Linked DNA regions of Homo sapiens. The protein of the gene in region 5 interacts with the protein of the main gene of each other region in a pairwise test. Each region holds a gene or a part of one and is shown on either strand. Other genes may lie near its edges. The genes, in order: UBQLN1, GPRASP3, ATXN3, NUMB, PALS1 and TRIM59.

Evidence for each region.
Region 1: the proteins of PALS1 (region 5) and UBQLN1 interact in binary tests that used the Homo sapiens proteins (3 or more experiments, as listed by UniProt).
Region 2: the proteins of PALS1 (region 5) and GPRASP3 interact in binary tests that used the Homo sapiens proteins (3 or more experiments, as listed by UniProt).
Region 3: the proteins of PALS1 (region 5) and ATXN3 interact in binary tests that used the Homo sapiens proteins (3 or more experiments, as listed by UniProt).
Region 4: the proteins of PALS1 (region 5) and NUMB interact in a two-hybrid assay, tested with the Homo sapiens proteins (one large-scale study listed by BioGRID).
Region 6: the proteins of PALS1 (region 5) and TRIM59 interact in a two-hybrid assay, tested with the Homo sapiens proteins (one large-scale study listed by BioGRID).

The regions. Positions count from the first base shown.
Region 1 is NC_000009.12:83,666,341-83,669,997, forward strand, and holds part of UBQLN1 (ubiquilin-1), read right to left. Parts: intron 2,988-3,657; coding exon 2,845-2,987; intron 2,292-2,844; coding exon of another isoform or gene 2,190-2,291; exon of another isoform or gene 1,168-2,189; intron 94-1,167; coding exon 10-93; intron 1-9. UniProt on the Homo sapiens protein: Plays an important role in the regulation of different protein degradation mechanisms and pathways including ubiquitin-proteasome system (UPS), autophagy and endoplasmic reticulum-associated protein degradation (ERAD) pathway.
Region 2 is NC_000023.11:102,748,202-102,751,858, forward strand, and holds part of GPRASP3 (G protein-coupled receptor associated sorting protein 3), read left to right. Parts: intron 1-497; 5' UTR 498-794; coding exon 795-2,438; 3' UTR 2,439-3,657. UniProt on the Homo sapiens protein: Survival and differentiation promoting protein that plays a role in the regulation of neurosynaptogenesis. Induces phosphatase PP2A activity which results in APP dephosphorylation and inhibits BACE1-mediated processing of APP.
Region 3 is NC_000014.9:92,100,083-92,103,582, reverse strand, and holds part of ATXN3 (ataxin-3 reference isoform), read left to right. Parts: intron 1-3,500. UniProt on the Homo sapiens protein: Deubiquitinating enzyme involved in protein homeostasis maintenance, transcription, cytoskeleton regulation, myogenesis and degradation of misfolded chaperone substrates.
Region 4 is NC_000014.9:73,291,017-73,294,673, reverse strand, and holds part of NUMB (protein numb homolog), read left to right. Parts: intron 1-1,799; coding exon 1,800-1,940; intron 1,941-3,657. UniProt on the Homo sapiens protein: Regulates clathrin-mediated receptor endocytosis. Plays a role in the process of neurogenesis.
Region 5 is NC_000014.9:67,331,825-67,335,481, reverse strand, and holds part of PALS1 (protein PALS1), read right to left. Parts: intron 2,703-3,657; coding exon 2,526-2,702; 3' UTR 1-2,525. UniProt on the Homo sapiens protein: Plays a role in tight junction biogenesis and in the establishment of cell polarity in epithelial cells.
Region 6 is NC_000003.12:160,437,395-160,439,786, reverse strand, and holds part of TRIM59 (tripartite motif-containing protein 59), read left to right. Parts: intron 1-600; 5' UTR 601-603; coding exon 604-1,815; 3' UTR 1,816-2,392. UniProt on the Homo sapiens protein: E3 ubiquitin ligase involved in different processes such as development and immune response. Serves as a negative regulator for innate immune signaling pathways by suppressing RLR-induced activation of IRF3/7 and NF-kappa-B via interaction with adapter ECSIT.

The DNA.
Region 1 (3,657 bases), on a different chromosome or scaffold from region 5:
CTTACTCACTTGTTGGAGGAAAGTTGGGAGCTGTTGTCTCATTTGTTCTTGAAGCTGAGGATTTCCAGCAAATAGGGGATTATTCAGCATCATCTATGGGGCAAGTGTTCAAACAATTTTAACTGGAAATATCTGAAACAAGTAATGTACCTTGTTTTATTCTATCTTCCCCCAAGTGCCTCAGCTGGCACTTAAAAGGGAGGAAGGTAGAACATAAATAAAAAAAGGAAAAGGGAAGATACTGTCCACAAGAGGGATCTCCAGAAGAACAAAAACAAAAAAATGAGGCATATTCTCTCTCAATGAGAATGGTGGTTATGATAATGACATGCAATATCCTAAAAAATAAAAGCAATCATTTTCTTAGGCTTTTCCTTGAACAAACGTGAATATATGCCATTGAAAGAAAAATGGGAGTAACTGGCATTCATGAAGATATATTTTCTACTACACTGGCAGAATAAACATAAACATCAATACATGAACTATGTAACATGGCTTGCTTAGAAACCTCAACACACAAGTGGCAGGCACAGAGAAAATCTAGATCTGAAAAGGACCACTACATCTACCTGCCTACTACAAAACAGCTAATATTAGGTCCAAAAAAATAACACCGCAAAACAGCAACCAACTTGCCAGAGAAATGGAGCTGCTAGGTGAAAATCAGTCAGGCCTAGCACCAACAGTCCTCTGGGAAAAGTATTAAAATGATTTAAGACCTAAAAGATGTAAATCCATTTGAGAACACCAAGATTAGCATCTGGATTTCACCTCACTACTACCAGAGATGAGAAAAGTGGCATCTCCTAAACTTCAAATAAACGTTAAGAATTTAAAAATCAGGATCATTATTAGTATGATGTCATATACCTGAAAATAAGATTAAAATACACAAGGAGCATAACCAGAGCTAATAAATTCTTGTAGCTTCAAAAGACACATTTTATATCATTTTCCCCAGGCGGAGTAAAAAGTCAACTAACAAGGATTTACTGATAGCCTATTTATCTATCCAAAGTCTGGGGAGGAAATGATCCTTGCCCTCAAGAAGTTAACCGTATTTAAGAGCAATGTAAATGCTGGTAGAGAAAATTCGCCCCAATTCTTGCAAAGTGATCTTTTAGTTAATTTCAATACAATAACAAAAGCAGATGTCAGACAACCTTTCAGGAACATACAGTATTTATTTCAAAGTGACCAGTAAGTTCACAGTAAGTAAACTCATACAGGCTTAAGGTCAACAAACCTGCTTCTTTATTGGTTCCAAATACTTATCATCAACATATTAACGAGGTTATCACACATATCTTTTGGAATTCACTTCATTTCATCTTAAAAAAGCATGTCATCTTAAACGTATCCTTTCACAGATAATCATCTTATTAGATACTTCTTATAACTTACCTGAGTGCTTATACCACAAGTTTTTACACTCAAGAGTCTTTTTAAATATTTAAAAATCAAAAGAATAGAAAAACCACAAATTTTAATCTGCAGATAACAAGAACATTGTAAAAGTTTCTAAATTATCTGTAATAAAAGACATGCCAATCTAGTACTAGCAACATTTTGTTTTAGAGTAAAAAAATAGTATGTGAGTGCTCAAGTCACTTTACTAAAGTAAGATTATTACAAAATTGCTACGCATGTGCTTGTTAAAGTCAAATTTTAAAAGCAAGATGCACATTCAGTATTAGCCAAATACACACTTAAAATGGCTTATTATGGTAAATTGAAGCATTTAATACTAACAACTCAGTCTGATAAGTTTCATATGCATAAATCAATCTTCCATAAAATGTACCTCCAATATACAGAATCACAGACACAAAAATTCTTCTTAAAATTTGTTATTTCCAATTCCACAAATTTGGTGAGGGCATAAGTTATTACTGAGAATTATACACAAAGATACCTGAATCAATATAGTTTTAGAATTTAGAAAATAAAAACCATTCATTTGACTTAAAGCTTTTAAAATTTAAGGGATGAGATTAACTATAAAGTCTTCCAAATTCCTGACACACTACAGAAGCCATTTTTAACGAACAGCAAATATAAACTACAGATTATCAAGGTTTATTTCACATTCTCCGTGGTTTTTCAAGCCCTGTGGTATGGAACCTAGATAGTACCTAGGCAACTTGAGGGAGAAAGGGTTATCGGACGCAATTATCTCAAAATCTCTAAGGATGAGGCCCCAACCATCGGTACTGTCTATAAAGCTTCCCAAGTGATCCTGAGTGTTCAGCCAGCATTAAGATCCCCAATTTTCTTAGCTGTGGTCTCTTTAGAAACAAATTAGAAAAAGGAATACATTAATAAGGGACCTGTATACGATTTTCAGCAGGGGAATCAATAGTTGAAAGAAGGAGAACATTGTTCTGACAAATTCCCGTCTTTAATAAATGCTATTTTACAACTGCCATTCTGAGCATGACTATTATAATCTGAGTGATCTACTAAATAAAAGTATTTCAAATGTATTAACATTGCTCTTAATTGCTTTCAAGATTTACATTTCATTAAGTAGTTTATCTTCAAAAGAGTGGGCATTCCAGAACTCTGTACTTGTCTCCTAACTCAACATATGTAGAAACAAACTAAACCTGCACTTCTTTCTAGTCAATGAATGGCAGAGATAAAGTTGTTTTAATTACATATGAAGTATTAATTTACTGCAAAGAAACACACGGTCTAAAAAATTGGAGACACAGTTTACTTATTTTTCTAGTGTATTAAGATATCATACACAACACAAATGTGCCAAAATCACAATTACAAGATTAGGTTATTTTAATTCACACTGCACAGTCTTTTTCAATACAATTACAAACTCACCTGTGCAGCAAGGTCAGGATTCTGGCTTAGTGACTGCATCATGCTTCTCATGTAGGGGGCAGACAACATGTTTTGCATCAGTTGTGGGTTTTCAGTTATTTGTTGCAACAAGCTCTGCATTCCTGGTGTGTTGAACATACTAGCTGAAAGTTTGTTTTTAAAAAAGACATATTAAGGAAAAATACTTAAACAAAAGTTAAAGCTTTAAAATATAATATGCACTGTGTTTAATTTCACCAAGTACAAATGATTATACATATTATGTATCAACTGAACTACGAAAGAACTTTAAAACTAAAACATCTCTAAAAGTACATGCCCAACATATACCAGGAAAAGAGGACTGATGAGTTTAAACATTCTGCATTTACAGTAAAATCTTGTCTAATGAAGAGCTAGCTTCTGAAGTCAACTTAAGGCAAAAATTACGTATGGTCAAAATTACTGCTGAAAAATTCCATAAAGTGAAAAGGACTGAGCCAACTTTTCCTCCAAGACTGCAAAGAATTAATTAGAATCATATTCGGCACTTAATATTGCCCACCCTTATGAAAGAAGTAAGCCTTCATGCCCAAGGCAACAAAAGATGTAATGCCTCCACCCATTTTCACTGTGTACTGCCACTCACTGAGTAAAATGGTAGGCACATTTAACATTTGAAACCATAGAGCACAGTGACTCCAAGCAGTATCAGGAGCCTGATTACGTGGGTTCAAATCTAATCTAACCCATGTGATCTTGGGCAAGTTATCTAGCGTCTTCATACTTCAGGTTCCCCATCTGTAAAATGGAGAAAGCAGTATCTACTTCATA
Region 2 (3,657 bases), on a different chromosome or scaffold from region 5:
TAGAGTGTAGGTCTGTCAACCAAATACTCAGAACTCCAATCCCATCTGTATTTTTGTCCATAGGCCTGCCCATGAGTTAACTATAGGGCATATCAACACTGCAAACAGGGAAGGAGGAAAAATTGCACTAGATCAGTGCAGGTTGGTGTGAGTGCTGCCTGAATACACCTATGAGGTCTAGTGGTATATATTTTAGTGGTGGACCTACTAGCATGGGTCCAAAGAGACTGGGCACTCCTTTAGCCTTTCTCACTCTCAGCAAGCTTACCTGCCATCTTTGTTCCTGTTTGATGCAGAGTAAAAGAATGACAGTGCTTGGGCAGGACATTGTTGAGCATTAGTGGCAGTGTGCAAGGTATAAAATTAAGTAGCAGAGTTTTTTATTAATCCACTTCTACACAATTCATTTCTACTCTCCTATGTCCTTCTGTGTGGCTGTTTGCATAGAGAAGCACAGTTAGACAAGACTCAAAGCCAGTTTCTTTCTTCAACCTCAGGTCCATCTCCACTGGTGGCTGTGGTGGCTTTGGATTGTTGGAAGACCATCACCTTCAGCAGGTCTGCACTTGGGAACAATCATTCTCCCCCAGCCCGAGCGTGCCTCTGCCCTCTGTATCATTGACAGAGGCTGTATGTTTGGAAAGAGAACTTTGTGACTGCAGAACTGACAGTTGACTCTAATTCTTGCTACCAAGTTTTTCCCCGACCCAGTGAAAGAGTGTTAAGACTTCGACCTAGGACACATTGAGAACCAAGGCCAAGACTGGACAGGGCCATATAACTGGGCTTCAACCATGGCTGGGACTAAGAATAAGACAAGAGCCCAGGCCAAAACTGAAAAAAAGGCTGCTATACAAGCTAAAGCTGGAGCAGAGAGGGAGGCTACTGGTGTTGTTAGGCCTGTAGCCAAGACCAGGGCCAAAGCAAAAGCCAAGACAGGGTCTAAGACAGATGCAGTAGCAGAGATGAAGGCAGTGTCTAAGAACAAGGTTGTTGCTGAGACGAAGGAAGGAGCTCTGTCAGAGCCTAAGACTCTGGGCAAAGCCATGGGAGATTTCACTCCCAAGGCTGGGAATGAGTCCACCAGCTCCACATGTAAAAATGAGGCTGGTACTGATGCCTGGTTCTGGGCTGGGGAAGAGGCCACTATCAATTCCTGGTTCTGGAATGGAGAAGAGGCTGGTAATAGTTTCAGCACTAAGAATGATAAACCTGAAATTGGTGCCCAGGTCTGTGCTGAGGAGTTGGAACCTGCGGCTGGGGCCGATTGCAAACCTAGGTCAGGGGCTGAGGAGGAGGAGGAAGAGAATGTTATTGGGAACTGGTTTTGGGAAGGAGATGATACTAGTTTTGACCCTAATCCTAAACCTGTGAGCAGGATAGTTAAGCCTCAGCCTGTGTATGAAATTAATGAAAAAAATAGGCCCAAGGACTGGTCTGAGGTAACTATCTGGCCCAATGCCCCTGCTGTAACTCCAGCTGTGTTAGGATTTAGATCCCAGGCACCATCTGAGGCAAGCCCTCCTTCATATATTGTTCTGGCCTCCGCTGAAGAAAATGCCTGTTCTTTGCCTGTGGCAACAGCTTGCCGCCCTTCTAGGAACACTCGCTCATGCTCACAGCCTATCCCTGAGTGTCGTTTTGATTCTGACCCCTGCATCCAGACCATAGATGAGATTAGACGTCAAATCAGGATCAGGGAGGTAAATGGGATTAAGCCATTTGCTTGTCCTTGCAAAATGGAATGCTATATGGATTCTGAGGAATTTGAAAAACTTGTTAGCTTACTTAAGTCAACTACTGATCCTCTTATTCATAAAATAGCACGGATTGCAATGGGTGTCCATAATGTTCACCCATTTGCCCAAGAGTTTATTAACGAAGTAGGTGTAGTGACACTTATTGAAAGCTTGCTCAGTTTTCCTTCCCCTGAAATGAGAAAAAAGACTGTAATTACTCTGAATCCTCCTTCTGGGGATGAAAGACAACGCAAAATTGAATTACATGTTAAGCATATGTGTAAAGAAACCATGTCATTTCCTTTGAACTCACCGGGACAGCAATCTGGATTAAAGATACTAGGACAACTGACTACTGATTTTGTCCATCACTACATTGTTGCCAATTACTTTTCAGAGCTTTTCCATTTGCTGTCCTCAGGAAATTGCAAAACCAGAAATCTTGTTTTGAAACTACTTTTAAATATGTCTGAAAATCCAACTGCAGCCAGAGACATGATCAATATGAAGGCATTGGCAGCATTAAAACTCATCTTTAACCAGAAAGAGGCAAAAGCCAATCTTGTTAGTGGTGTGGCCATATTTATTAACATAAAGGAGCATATCAGAAAAGGCTCAATTGTAGTTGTTGATCACTTGAGTTATAATACACTCATGGCCATTTTCAGGGAAGTTAAAGAGATTATTGAAACAATGTAAAATGAGCCAGAGATAGAACATTTTAAGCCATCTTCAAACTCTAGCAGGCTGTACATTACAGTGTACACATTATACACTGCATCTTTAACACAGAGTCACCTGTGACAGGCTCTAGGTTTGAGCTAGACTATTTTGGGGGTATCAAATGAATATTATACCTTGGGCTGAAAATGTTTGATTTTTATCTTGTCTAGATTGGCATATTTTTAACATTTTACTTAAGATAGCAAACCAGTTCGTTTTAAGTAAGCTAACTTGTTCATTAGTATCTGTGGCTTAAAATGGCAAAAAAGAAAATATCCTTGAGTTTGTAATCTAGTTACAGAAGTAAGGCATACACACACACAAAGATAACAGTACCTAGAGAGAGAGTGTGTGTGAGTGTGCGTGTCTCTGTGTGTGCACGTGCACGCTCATGGCCAAATGTGCGCACTCTACATAAAGGAGGCAGGAGTTCCTATAGGCTATTTAATGTAAGAGAAACTATTTTTCTCCTGTTCCAGCTGTATCAGATACTCGTTCCGCAACACAGAAATGACTCAGAATCTCAGACAAAATGTATTATTTGTTCAATTTTAATTTTGCTACTACATTCATAACTCTTAAATTGTTAGGCTGTTTCATTTACATCAAAGTTATCTCACAAAAGAGAAGGCAGGAAACGTTTTGTGAGTGCCTATTCTATGTCAAACACTGTGTTGGCACCATATTTTACAAGTTTTTTTCCTCTTCTCACAGTGATCTTGTGAGTTAGTTACTTATATTTTTATTAGAACTCATTATTCTGGGTACCCTCCAATGAGAATTAGAGAGGTTAAATACCTTTTCCTAGATTCCCACAGCAGGAAGGTGGCATAGCTGTTTTGTCTGACACCAGAACCCATCTCACCACACTGCTTTACAGTCTTCCTGAAGGACATTTTGAGGTGGGGGGGCCTTCAAAGCTCAGAGACTGGTTTGAATGGTTTAATTTTGCAATGGATCATGTCCATGCCAGGTGTTACAATTCTTAACTTCCTCCAAATTCGTGTGTCCATTAGACATTTGGCTACATCTGGCTGGAGGTCAGGAGAAAATTCTGAGGTAAATAGATGGATTTTATCTGGCAGTGTCGAAAATAGTAGGAGCCTAAAACTTTGTTCAATGAGTAAGATGTAGATTTGGAGTCATCAGCAGGGGAAACTTGTTAGATGTCCTTTGTATCTTTTTCTATCCATTT
Region 3 (3,500 bases), about 25 Mb from region 5:
GTTAGCACATGCCTGTAGACTTGGGAGGCTGAGGTGGGAGGATTGCATGAGTCTGGGAGGTCGAGGCTGTAGTGAGCCATGATCGCACCACTGCACTCCAGCCTAGGGGACAGAGCAAGATCCTGTCTCAAAAGAAAAAAATGTATATATTTGAATGGATAAAGAGATGGCTTTGAGTTTCTGAGATATATATGGTGCTGTTTATCTAAAGTAAACAAGTTTTCTGTAAATATTTTAAGGCTTTGCAGGCCAGCTGTAGTCTCTGTCACACATTCTTATTTGTGCATGTTTTTCCCAACCATGTAAAAATGTAAAGTGCATTCTTAGCTACTGGGGCAGGTTGAATTTGGCCCATGGGCTAGAGTTTGCCAACCCCTAACTTAAACCTTTGTACTAACTTTATGACCACTACTGGATTTTTGTTGTTGTTTGTTTTAGTTCTGGTGCCTGCTTTGTTTTTTTTTTTTTTTTTAATCCTCTTGCTGATGTTTCTTGGTGCAGTTACTGTGCCATTTGTATTGGTGCTTTTAATGTAATGCAAACTGGTAATAATATCTAAACTTGCTGGGGTTGTACATAAAATTATTGAAAAGATTGAAAAGATGCTGAGCATTGACTCTGTGGCATTCATTATGCCCTTTTGTGATTGCTGGATTTTAGCCATCTTTAGGACATTTGAGCTTTAGGAGAAGCCAAATTCTGTATAAATGACTTGAAGTGCTAATAGCACAGGTTTTGAAACCTCTGCCTGGGTTTGAGTCTCAGCTCTGCCTTTTACTACCTGTGTGATCCTGAGCAAGTTACTTAGTATCCCTGTCCTCTAGTTTCCTCCTCTGTAGTGTGGGGATAATAACATAGACATAACCTGAGAGTTAGAGTGTAGAGAAGGCTCCCTGGCAGATAGTGCTGTAGAAGTACTGGCCATTGCCATTACTCAGGTGCTTGTGTTTGCTGAACCTCATAGTAAGGGCTCGGAGAGCACTAAGAGGAGGTGAGAAATGCTGCTAGATTGACAGCTTGTCCCCAGATAGCCCATTCCCGAGAGCACCTTAGGTTTATACCTGATTTGTGTTGTAGTTAGTAGTGTCTCTGGTAATTTGAACTAGTTTCAGGTTGGTCTTGAAAACCTGGGGAGGTTGGGGGTAAATGATTTGGTAGCAGTTCTCTTTTGTGATTTTATACATTATCTTTGTAGAACTGCAGTTTGCTAATTCTCTGAGCCCAACACAATGAAGTCTGGGCCTAAAATCATAGAATTTCTTTTATTTTTTTTTTTGTTTTTAATTTATTTATTCCCTCCCTCCCTCCTTTCTTCCTTTCTTCCTTTTCTTTCTTTCTTTCCTTCCTTCCTTCCTTCTTTCTTTTCTTTCTTTCTTTTCTTTCTTTGGAGTCTCACTCTGTCACCAGGCTGGAGTGCAGTGGCACGAACTTTCTTCAGAGTCTCACTTTGTCACCAGGCTGGAGTGCAGTGGCGCGAACTCAGCTCACTGCAACCTCCGTCTCCTGAGTTCAAGAGATTCTCCTGCCTCAGCCTCCCGAGTAGCTGGGACTATAGGCATGTGCCACCATGCCCAGCTAATTTTCTTATTTTTAGTAGAGACGAGGTTTCACCATGTTGGCCAGGATGGTCTTGATCTCTTGACCTCGTGATCCACCTGCCTCAGCCTCCCAAAGTGCGGGGATTACAGGCGTGAGCTACCACGCCCAGCCTATTTTTTATTTTTTGAGGCAGAGTCTCACTCTGTCACCCAGGCTGGAGTGCAGTGGTGCAATCTCAGCTCACTGCAACCTCCGCCTCCTGGGTTCAGGTGATTCTCCTGCCTTAGCCTCCTGAGCACCTGGGACTACAGGCGCCTGCCACCACACCTGGCTAATTCTTATATTTTTAGTAGAGGCGGGGTTTCACCATGTTGGCCAGGCTGGTCTCGAACTCCTGATCTCAAGTGATCAACCTGCCTTGGCCTCCCAAAGTGCTGGAATTACAGCCATGAGCCACCATGCCCAGCCAAATCATGAGATTTCAATACCGCTGAACTTTGATTATGGCAAAGTGAACTTCTGCTTTGATTAAAGCTTGATGAGAGAGGTGGCTGGGGATAGTTTGAGATAAGGGCAAGGCAGGAAAATGCATAATCTTACGTGGGCTCATTGTCATTGTACAATTCTTTTGGTCCATGTGGAATTTGATCCGTCCTATGACTTAAGTTATGTTTATTTTTGTTTTTATTTTTATTTATTTTGTGTCTTTTTGAGAGACATGATGTTGCTCTGTCACCTGGGCCAGAATACAGTGGCACAATCTTAGCTCCGTGTAGCCTTGAACTCCTGGGCTCAAGTGATCCTCCCACCTCAGCCCCTCAAACAGTTGAGATTATAGTATGAACCACTGTGCCTAGCCTTAAGTGATTTTTAAATTTGTACTGAACAGTTTGTCCTTTCCTTCCATTAAATCATATTAGAAGTACAGAACTTGATATTTCCTGTAGCAATACAGTTTTTCTTTGATGAAGTTTGATTTCAAGTACTTATTTTTCATAATTTAAAGCTATTTTTTATAGAGAGAATTTTAATCAAATATTTGGATGTCACTATTGCTATATATGGTATTAAGTATGGTGACCATAGTTTGTAAACTCCAAACTGACAGCAAGACAGGAAATTTGTGTTAGCAAAGGCTTTTTTCTTACTGTTTGAATTTTTTAAAAATTAGATACAATACAGAGAGGAGCACACAAATCATTAAGAGTACAGCTCAGCGAATTTTCACACAGTGAACATGTGTAAACAGCAAGTAACAAAAGATTTACCTGCATCCTATAACCTCCCATTATTCCCTTTTCTAGGTACTGTCTCTCCACTGCATTCCCACCAAATATAACCACTATGCTGAATTCTGACATCATAAATGAGTTTTGCCTGATTTTGAGCTTTTGTGACTGGAAGTGTACAGTGTATATACCCTTTCGATTCTGTCCTCTTTAGTTTACCATTGTTTGAGAAATTTATCCATACTGTTCCAGAATTAACTACTGTTAATTATTGTTAATTAACTACTGTTGTAGTTAATTCATCCTCATTGTTATCTAGTATTCTTTTGTGAGTAAACACAATTTCCATTCTACTGTGATCCCAGCTATCCATTTGGGTCGTTTCCAGTTTGGGGTCCATTACAAATAGTAATGCTATCTGTAATGCTATTTTGTATTACTACAAATAGTAATGCTATTTGTGGCACAAAAATACTGCTTTTGTGAACATTCTTATACATGTCTTTTGATGAATGTATGTTTGCATTGCTGTTGTTTACATTATGTACCTAGTAATGGAATTGCTAGATCATAGGAGATGTATATATTAAGCTTTAGTGGATGCATTACATAATTATTAGTTATTATTGGTTATACCAATTTATCCTCTCATCAGTAGTATACAACAGTTTCTGTATCTCTAATCTCCAACATTTTAGCCATTTTAGAGTTTGTGTACTAACACATTGTGGT
Region 4 (3,657 bases), 6.0 Mb from region 5:
TGGTGGTGCGTGCCTATGGTTCCAGCTACTTGGGAGGCTGAGGCATGAGAGTCACTTGAACCTAGGAGGCAGAGGTTGCAGTAAGCTGAGATTGCATCATTGCACTCCAGCAGCCTGGGCGACAGAGCAAGACTATCTCAAAAAAAGAAAGTAAAAAGAGAATCCTGGAAATGAGTAAGCCAAAAAGGAGTAGTCCCAAATTCTGTTCATAAATTCTGCCCAAATCTCTGACCCTTTTAGCCATGTAGATTCAAGGCAGACTCCAAATAGCCCAACTAAGGATATAAAAACTGATATTTGATTACCTACGTATGGTGACATGCACCTGTAGTCCTAGCTCCTCGGGAGGCTGAGGCGGGAGGATGCTTGAGCCCTGGAGTTGAGGTTACAGTGAGCAGTGATTGCGCCACTGCACTCCAGCCTGGATGACGGAGCAAGACAGTCTCAAAAAAAGAACAAAAACGCCCTGATGTCTGAGGTGCTGTTCAAAAGATAAGAGTTTTCCATTTGAGTATAATCAAATTAGCTACCTGATAAAACCAAAAATATGACACTTCCAAGGAATGTAACGGAATCCATTCTTTCCACATACAACATTCACAATGACTACAATGCAGTTACTCAGCATACAACAAAACAGACAAGTCTGACTTATTCTCATCAAAATAACAATCAATAAAGACCTAACTTCAAGATGACTCAGATGTTGGAATTAGCAGACAGATTTTAAATGCCCGCCTTCACTATTTGACCAAGAAATAAATGTCTCTTGTATTTGAGTCATTGTATTGTTTTGTGTTTATAGCATCACCACAACTAGTACAGAAAATGGTACACTGAAGTAGACTGCTACCTTAACAGAAATGAAAACAGTGTATAGAAGGCATTATAACTATACTCAGTGACAGAAAGGAAATATGTTCATGTTGAATGAAGAGATAGAAATCTTGGCAGAGAATAGAAACTATGAAAAAGAAACAAATGGCTGGGCACGGTGGCTCGTGCCTGTAATCCCAGCACTTTGGGAGGCCAAGGCAGGTGGATCATGAGGTCAGGAGATTGAGACCGTCCTGGCTAACACAGTGAAACCTGTCTCTACTAAAAATACAAAAAAATTAGCCGGGCGTGGTGGCACACGCCTGTAGTCCCAGCTGCTTGGGAGGCTGAGGCAGGAGAATTGCTTGAACCCGGGAGGCAGAGGTTGCAGTGAGCCAAGATCGCGCCACTGCACTCCAGCCTGGGTGACAGAGTGAGACTGTCCAAAAAAAAAAAAAAAAAAAGAAAAAGAAACGAGTGGAAATTCCACACCTGAAAAATACAGTATCTGAAGTAACTTCACTGGATCGGGTATATATAATGTAAAAAAGCAAGGTGCAGAACTGTGTGTATGTGTGTGTAGTGTTCATTGTGTAACGAAGTTAGCATAAACATGACTATTATATGTATTTGCTTATATTTGGGAATAAACCCAAAGGATTTTTTTTTTATCCAAAGGATTAAAGATACTGATTTACATATATTGTTGAATGTGGAATCTACCATGAAAGAGATGTAAAACTAGAATCAACAAGCATATGCTTTAGAACATGTAGTTGAGAGAGGTATCTGGGCAAAGTGCCTCTTGGGATGTCTGCTGAGTCCAATTCTCAGTATTTAAACTGCTGGACACAGATCTAGGTATTCCATAGCCTAGTTGTATCAGATGTATGGATTGTGCATCATGAAATGAACATCCTGTGTTCTGAGAAGCTCAGATAACCTCATAAGTCTTCTCTTTCTTTGTGTGTCGTATTTTCTAGGACCTCATAGTTGACCAGACGATAGAGAAAGTTTCTTTCTGTGCCCCAGACAGGAACTTTGATAGAGCCTTTTCTTACATATGCCGTGATGGCACCACTCGTCGCTGGATCTGTCACTGCTTCATGGCTGTCAAGGACACAGTGAGTCCAGCAAATATGTATTTCATGATGAGTATTCTCAGTTAGCTGGGCTCTTTCTGGGTTTGCTCAGCCAAGCGGTTTCTACTACATTTTTAACAAGTACTTGGAAGTGCCTAAACTAGCCTACTTTCAGCTCCTTTTATTCAAATAGTTCACACTCTTGATGTAACCCCAGGAGTTGCAACTCACTGAACAAAATGATTGGCTGAAACCAAAGATCATTAAAGGAAGGTAAAAATGGTCTGGTGATAGTGGTTGCTAAACTTTATTTGAAACTTTTAATTATTGGAAGTATTTTCAGGGTTCTTAAATGTATTTGTTGGCTAACATATATGAGTATGGTATTAAAAATGTATTTGCATAGAGACTACTACAAATGAAAGAAGTTGGCTGGGCCTGATGGCTCACCCCTATAATCCCAGCACTTTGGCCAGGGCAGGAAGATCACTTGAGACCACAAGTTGGAAACTAACCTGGGTTACATGGCAAGACCTCATCTTTACAAAGTTAAAGAAAAAATTAGCCAGGCATGGTGGCACATGCATGTAGTCCTAGCTACATTCTACATGCCTTGGGAGGCTGAGGCGAGCAGAACACTTGAGCGTAGGTGTTGGAGGCTACAGTGAGTCATCGTGCCATTACACTCCAGCCTGGGTGACAGAGTGAGACCTTGTCTCCAAAAACAGAACAAAACAAAAAAACAAAACTGAGTTGGAGTATACTTTCAACTATTATAAAAACAGAAATACCGGCCAGGCACGGTGGTTCACACCTGTAATCCCAGCACTTTAGGAGGCCGAGGCAGGCGGATCACGAGGTCAGGAGTTCAAGACCAGCCTGGCCAATATGGTGAAACCCCGTCTCTACTAAAAATACAAAAAAATTAGCTGGGCGTGGTGGTGCATGCCTGTAGTCCCAGCTACTCGGGAGGCTGAGGCAGAAGAATCGCTTGAACCCAGGAGGTAGAGGTTGCAGTGAGCTGAGATTTGTGCCACTGACTCCATCCTGGGTGACAGAGCAAGACTCTGGCCAAAAAAAAAAGAAAAAAGAAATACTGGCCGGGCATGGTGGCTCACACCTGTAATCCCAGCACTTTGGGAGGCCGAGGTAGGCAGATCACCTGAGGTCAAGAGTTCAAGACCAGTCTGGCCAACATGGTGAAACCCTGTCTCTACTAAAAATGCAAAAGTTAGCCAGGTGTGGTGGCGCATGCCTGTGATCCCAGCTACTTGGGAGACTGACTCAGGAGAATCGCTTGAACTCGGAGGCAGAGGTTGCAGTGAGCCAAGATTGCACCACTGCACTCCAGCCTGGACGACAGTAAGACTCCGTCTCAAAAATAAAACAAAAATAGGCCAGGCACGGTGGCTCACGCCTGTAATCCTAGCACTTTGGGAGGTTGAGGTGGGCAGATCACTTGAGGTCAGGAGTTGGAGACCAGCCTGGCCAACATGATGAAACCCTGTCTCTACTAAAAATACAAAAATTAGCCGGCTGTGGTGGCGGGTGCTTGTAATCCCAGTTATTCAGGAGGCTGAGGCACGAGAATCGCTTGAACCCAGGAGGCAGAGGTTGCAGTGAGTCAAGATTGCACCACTGCACTGCAGCCTAGGTGACAAAGCAAGACTCCATCTCAAAAAAAAAAAACAAAAAACAAAAACTAAACAGAAATACTAAGTTACGGTAGAATGAACAACGCTAGAAATTGTTGCATGAT
Region 5 (3,657 bases):
TTATGCACCAACCTAAAACTTCCTTATTTGGATTTTCCAAGTACATAGCATTAGTTATTGATATCATTTCTATATTAAATGGTAAGACCTCCCCCACACTGGGGTCTCCAGTCAGAACCACAGAGGGACAGGAAATGGAATTGGCCAGAGTGGCTGTACAACTAGGTGTACAGCAAGGCTTTTTTCCATATTCTTTTGTGGAGGTCAGCAACAACTCAGTTTTCACTTTAAGGACTATGTTGAATATCAGCACATCCTCATCACTAGGATTTAGAAAAGTTTAGGACATTTCTATCTACCATTGCTGATGAGGAAGGGGAGAATGATTGATAGACTTCACTGACCTTGAAATATTTATCATCTCAGACTTCCTAAAAGTATGGCATGGCATCACCTCTGCCTTGATACAAGATCTGCTTGTTAAAGCCATGTTCCTGAATCTTGACAGCACATGGCCCTAGTGCAGGCCTAATGTCTACAGCAGGCACAAGAGCCACTCACTGACACTACCTACACCCTCACTCTAACTTAACATGAACTGCCAATAGTTTAGCTCTTGGAGTTGAAAACAGTTGTCAGTTACAATAAGCAGGATCACAAAACTCCATTGTCAACCATAGACTACACTTCATTCCTGAGACGTAAACTGGAAAACTGAAAAGATTAAGTAAGTGCTAAGTATATTCCTTAGTTTTTAATGCTAAAAATCGGTGTGACCTGTGAAATTTCCTGGCTCTAAACTGGAGTATTTCAGATCTGAAGAGACAGTAGTGTATGGCATTCCTTCCCTCAACCCAAGAATGTTATTTTCTTCCTAAGGAACATTATCTTGAAAATATTTCCACATAAAACACTCTCCAGCCAACTTAATAGGCCATGCAAATTTGAACAGAAAAAGGCGACATATAAACTGTCTACATTTGTTCAAATAAAATTATGTAGAAGAAAAAAAATCAATCAAATATGTACATGACACAAATTACTCCTTAAACATAATTGCTTATGTTAAATTAAATGATGTCAGTATTATTCCAGTGTTTAGCTCTGGGTATAGGAAATGCTGTAGCTAAAGTCACCATAAAAATAAAATCAAGGCATTCACATTTGAGGTTGTTTGTTACACATCACACTATCCTAAAGGCTTGAAAAGACTGCAAATTAAGTTTCCATGCCAATTATATACGTTGAATTTTAAAGCTACAGCTATAGAGACAGTACGAAAATCCTATTAGCTTAAATGTTTCTTTTATGATTTACCAAGCTGTTGCATTCTCGTCATAAGAGGCAGACCTTGTTAGGTTAAAAACCTATTTCTATATATTTAATACCTTTTTCTCTCCAATATTCTTTTCCTAAAATGTTCAAATGACTTTCAGGTCTTCCCTTCCTTTTGATCTTAAAGTCAACTGTCATAATATTTCCCAAGGACATATATAATTTTATTCTAATGCTAAACAAGTGTTTTCAATGACCATTTGTTGATCTATTAAATATTAATATACAGTACAGCAGCTATATTCATCAACAGAATTCCAGTTTATTACCTATATATACGTAGCACAGTCATAGGATACTGTGCTCATACATAAAAATGCAAAAACTGTCAAATGTGCTATCCTCCCATGTATACAAAAAACTATTAGCATCATGAGGAAGAAACTTTTTAAGTCAATACAGATTATAATGAACACCTGCCATTCATAAAAATGTAACATACATTCTATTATACTATGCTGATGAGGGAAGGGAAGCTAAGTGAGTAAATCAGTTGAGACGACTTAAGAAAAAAATTCAGGAAATCATAATTTAAAAAAGATCAGCATATTTTGTATACCTTTAAGTAGATTAGAGTGTGTTGAGTGTAGAGTCTGATCCACAAAGTCTGAGCAAAAAAACTGGTGCTTCTAATGGAATGTTTTTTGTTTTTTTAAGAATCAAAAGACATATAAATGAATTCAAGCCTAACAAAGTAGCTTCAACCCAAAGTGGCACCATTTTGTTTTTTATTTTTCCTTTTTAGGAAAGTATCTCTGATGACTAAATTAGTTTCCTAAGCAAATACTGCCTTGCCCAGTGCATAGAAGCACAGTCCCTCTGCTCAATATTCCCAATGAAGTCATTTAAGTGTTAATGATTTAACACTTAAGAATAATCACATCAATATTTGTGTGAGACATGGACGCTTGTGTATACAAGTTTTTCACAGAGATACAACTAAGCAGAAAGGGTTTAGGTGAAAACAAAAGGTTTTAACAGGACAAAATGGAATGCTCTGTTGAAAGCTTCCATTTAGAATCCCAAAATGAGGCAAGAACCGCTAAAGCCATGTATAGAGAATAAAGGATGCCATGCACAAACTGCCTAAGGGAACTGTCGTCTCACTAATTCAAGAGATCTAAGAACAGATCTACAGCTTATACTGCTGCCTTCCATCTTATCCTCAATCTTGCTGCAGTGTCGGGCAGTCCTCCTATTGGCAGTTTTTGCCAGATCAAGTCCAACATGCCACAGAATGGATGTTTCTTTCACCTCAGCCAAGTGGATGGTACCCACTGAGGTTCAGTATCAAGTTTGTTAATTAACCTAAGCAATTCCTGATAGGCTTTATCAAGATCGGAATTCACAATTGCCGTATCAAAGTAGTGGCCATTGTTCTGCTCCATCTCTCTTGTCTTCTCAATGATTTCTCTCAACTCTTCAGGCTGCAAACAGAAGATAAAAACTGTGAGATAATTCCTTTCCTAACCAAATAATATAGGATGAGTCAGAGATGGCCAAAGAACAAGGAGCGACCTTCATAGCTTTCCTTCTGTCTCTCCCAACCTCAGGAGCTCCTTTCCAACCCTGTCACGGCCACAATGGTTACCTTTGCTTTGGCATCTTCACGACTCATATTATGAACCATCTGGGACTCAATATATCCTGTTTTATACCACTATTTAGGTTTTCACATATTTTGTCTTATCTCACCAACAAAACTACAAGCTTCAAGAACACACACTGTTTCCCTACAAACATTTGTTTTCAAACATTCTAGACACTATAACCTCTTCCTAATAGTAACATCTGTAATATGGAGTGAACCTTTCTGGTTGGAGCAAGGACCTAAAATGCCATTTACTTTTGGCTCTAGTAAAGAGCCCTTGCCCTATACTATCTGCTGCAGAGAGTTAAAAGTATCCTACCAGAGTTTGGGAAACTATATAGAGTAGCCTACTTTAAAATACTGACTGAAGGAAAGGGCCATTTTACAAAGATAAGCAGGCAGCAAGGCTATGTGCAAAACTTATCCTGAACCCTCTAATTATCAGGCACATGGGTTCAAGAAAGTGAAACTCACCTCAAATCACCCCTGCCAATGAAGACAACTAACTTAAACTCAAGACAAAATGTCTCAGATATAAAAGTCACACATCAATACTATATTGGACCCATAGTACAAAACAATTTATATCATTCAACTGTTTGAACTTCTGTAACAGTAAGAAAACATATTAAAAATATGACAACTCTGGCTTGTCCTGAGGCAGTTTCTTGCATGACTCTCATTCTGGAATGTTGTACATCTGAATATGGCACACAGAATCCTTTGTTCCCAGCAGGGAATCTACTTCACCACTGTAACTGAACACACTGACATTTTTGCTAAAACTTATG
Region 6 (2,392 bases), on a different chromosome or scaffold from region 5:
AGACTGGGTAATTTATAAGGAAAAAGAGGTTTAATGGACTCACAGTTCCACATGGCTGGGGAGACCTCACAATCATGGCAGAAGGTGAAAGGCACGTCTCACATGGCGGCAGACAAGAAAAGAGAATGAGTGAAGCAAAAGGGGTTTCCTCTTACAAAACCATCAGATCTCGTGATACTACAAGAACAGTATGGGGGAACTGCCCCCATGACTAAAGTTATCTACCGCTGAGTCCCTCCCACAACATGTGGGAATTATGGGAGCTACAATTCAAGATGAGATTTGGGTGGAGACACAGCCAAACCATATCACATAGCAACAAATTTAAATAACTTAAATTTGAAGCATTTTACTACAAATTAATGATAATTGCTTTGTTTGGGATGATTTTGGTCCCTAAGGAATAAACTCTTAATTGTGATCAGTTATTCACTATATATACTAGGAAATGAATTACTCAGAAAACTTCATTTTAAAAATACCTTGTTCTCTTTTAAATGACAAGCAGTATGGTAACAATTTGGAGGTTAATGCCTAGAATGTTAAATAATATGTACAGGTGTCTCTATGTAAACTTAAAATACATTTTTCTCTTGACAGGAAATGCACAATTTTGAGGAAGAGTTAACTTGTCCCATATGTTATAGTATTTTTGAAGATCCTCGTGTACTGCCATGCTCTCATACATTTTGTAGAAATTGTTTGGAAAACATTCTTCAGGCATCTGGTAACTTTTATATATGGAGACCTTTACGAATTCCACTCAAGTGCCCTAATTGCAGAAGTATTACTGAAATTGCTCCAACTGGCATTGAATCTTTACCTGTTAATTTTGCACTAAGGGCTATTATTGAAAAGTACCAGCAAGAAGACCATCCAGATATTGTCACCTGCCCTGAACATTACAGGCAACCATTAAATGTTTACTGTCTATTAGATAAAAAATTAGTTTGTGGTCATTGCCTTACCATAGGTCAACATCATGGTCATCCTATAGATGACCTTCAAAGTGCCTATTTGAAAGAAAAGGACACTCCTCAAAAACTGCTTGAACAGTTGACTGACACACACTGGACAGATCTTACCCATCTTATTGAAAAGCTGAAAGAACAAAAATCTCATTCTGAGAAAATGATCCAAGGCGATAAGGAAGCTGTTCTCCAGTATTTTAAGGAGCTTAATGATACATTAGAACAGAAAAAAAAAAGTTTCCTAACGGCTCTCTGTGATGTTGGCAATCTAATTAATCAAGAATATACTCCACAAATTGAAAGAATGAAGGAAATACGAGAGCAGCAGCTTGAATTAATGGCACTGACAATATCTTTACAAGAAGAGTCTCCACTTAAATTTCTTGAAAAAGTTGATGATGTACGCCAGCATGTACAGATCTTGAAACAAAGACCACTTCCTGAGGTTCAACCCGTTGAAATTTATCCTCGAGTAAGCAAAATATTGAAAGAAGAATGGAGCAGAACAGAAATTGGACAAATTAAGAACGTTCTCATTCCCAAAATGAAAATTTCTCCAAAAAGGATGTCATGTTCCTGGCCTGGTAAGGATGAAAAGGAAGTTGAATTTTTAAAAATTTTAAACATTGTTGTAGTTACATTAATTTCAGTAATACTGATGTCGATACTCTTTTTCAACCAACACATCATAACCTTTTTAAGTGAAATCACTTTAATATGGTTTTCTGAAGCCTCTCTATCTGTTTACCAAAGTTTATCTAACAGTCTGCATAAGGTAAAGAATATACTGTGTCACATTTTCTATTTGTTGAAGGAATTTGTGTGGAAAATAGTTTCCCATTGAAAATGTCAACCTGAATTGTTTAAATGGGCTTATTCTGTACATTGCTAAACAAAAAATGGGGTAGCATGGATAAAGAGCAAACTAAGCTTTATTAGTGCTGCAACTAATATAAACAAATGTTTATATTTGTTGCTTCTTTTGGTTAGCAATGATATGTCAAAGTTATATCTGAAATAGTCAAATCTTTGGGAAACAGAATCTAGTAACAATTTGAAAAGTAATACACTATCCCATTTTTATTGGCTTTATGATGGTTGACATAATGTTGCTGTGACATTTAAACATTCTTGTACCAATATTGTCTTTTACCATTATTATATACTGCAGTTAATTGGCTTTACAGTTCTTTATATATATAGCAAAATCCTGAAAGAACATATACCTTTATTTTGATGTGGCTTGAAGCTTTTGAATGGGTGAATAAGGATGATAGAAAGGTTTCAAAATCAAGCAACAAAGTCTTAAAGTGATAAGGCATGGCTTAAAGATCTTTTGATCAAACATACCTGTGTTTGAGATAGATTTAAGAGCCCTAAATGCTTATCACCATTCACTCCAAATAAAACTATTGCTTTTG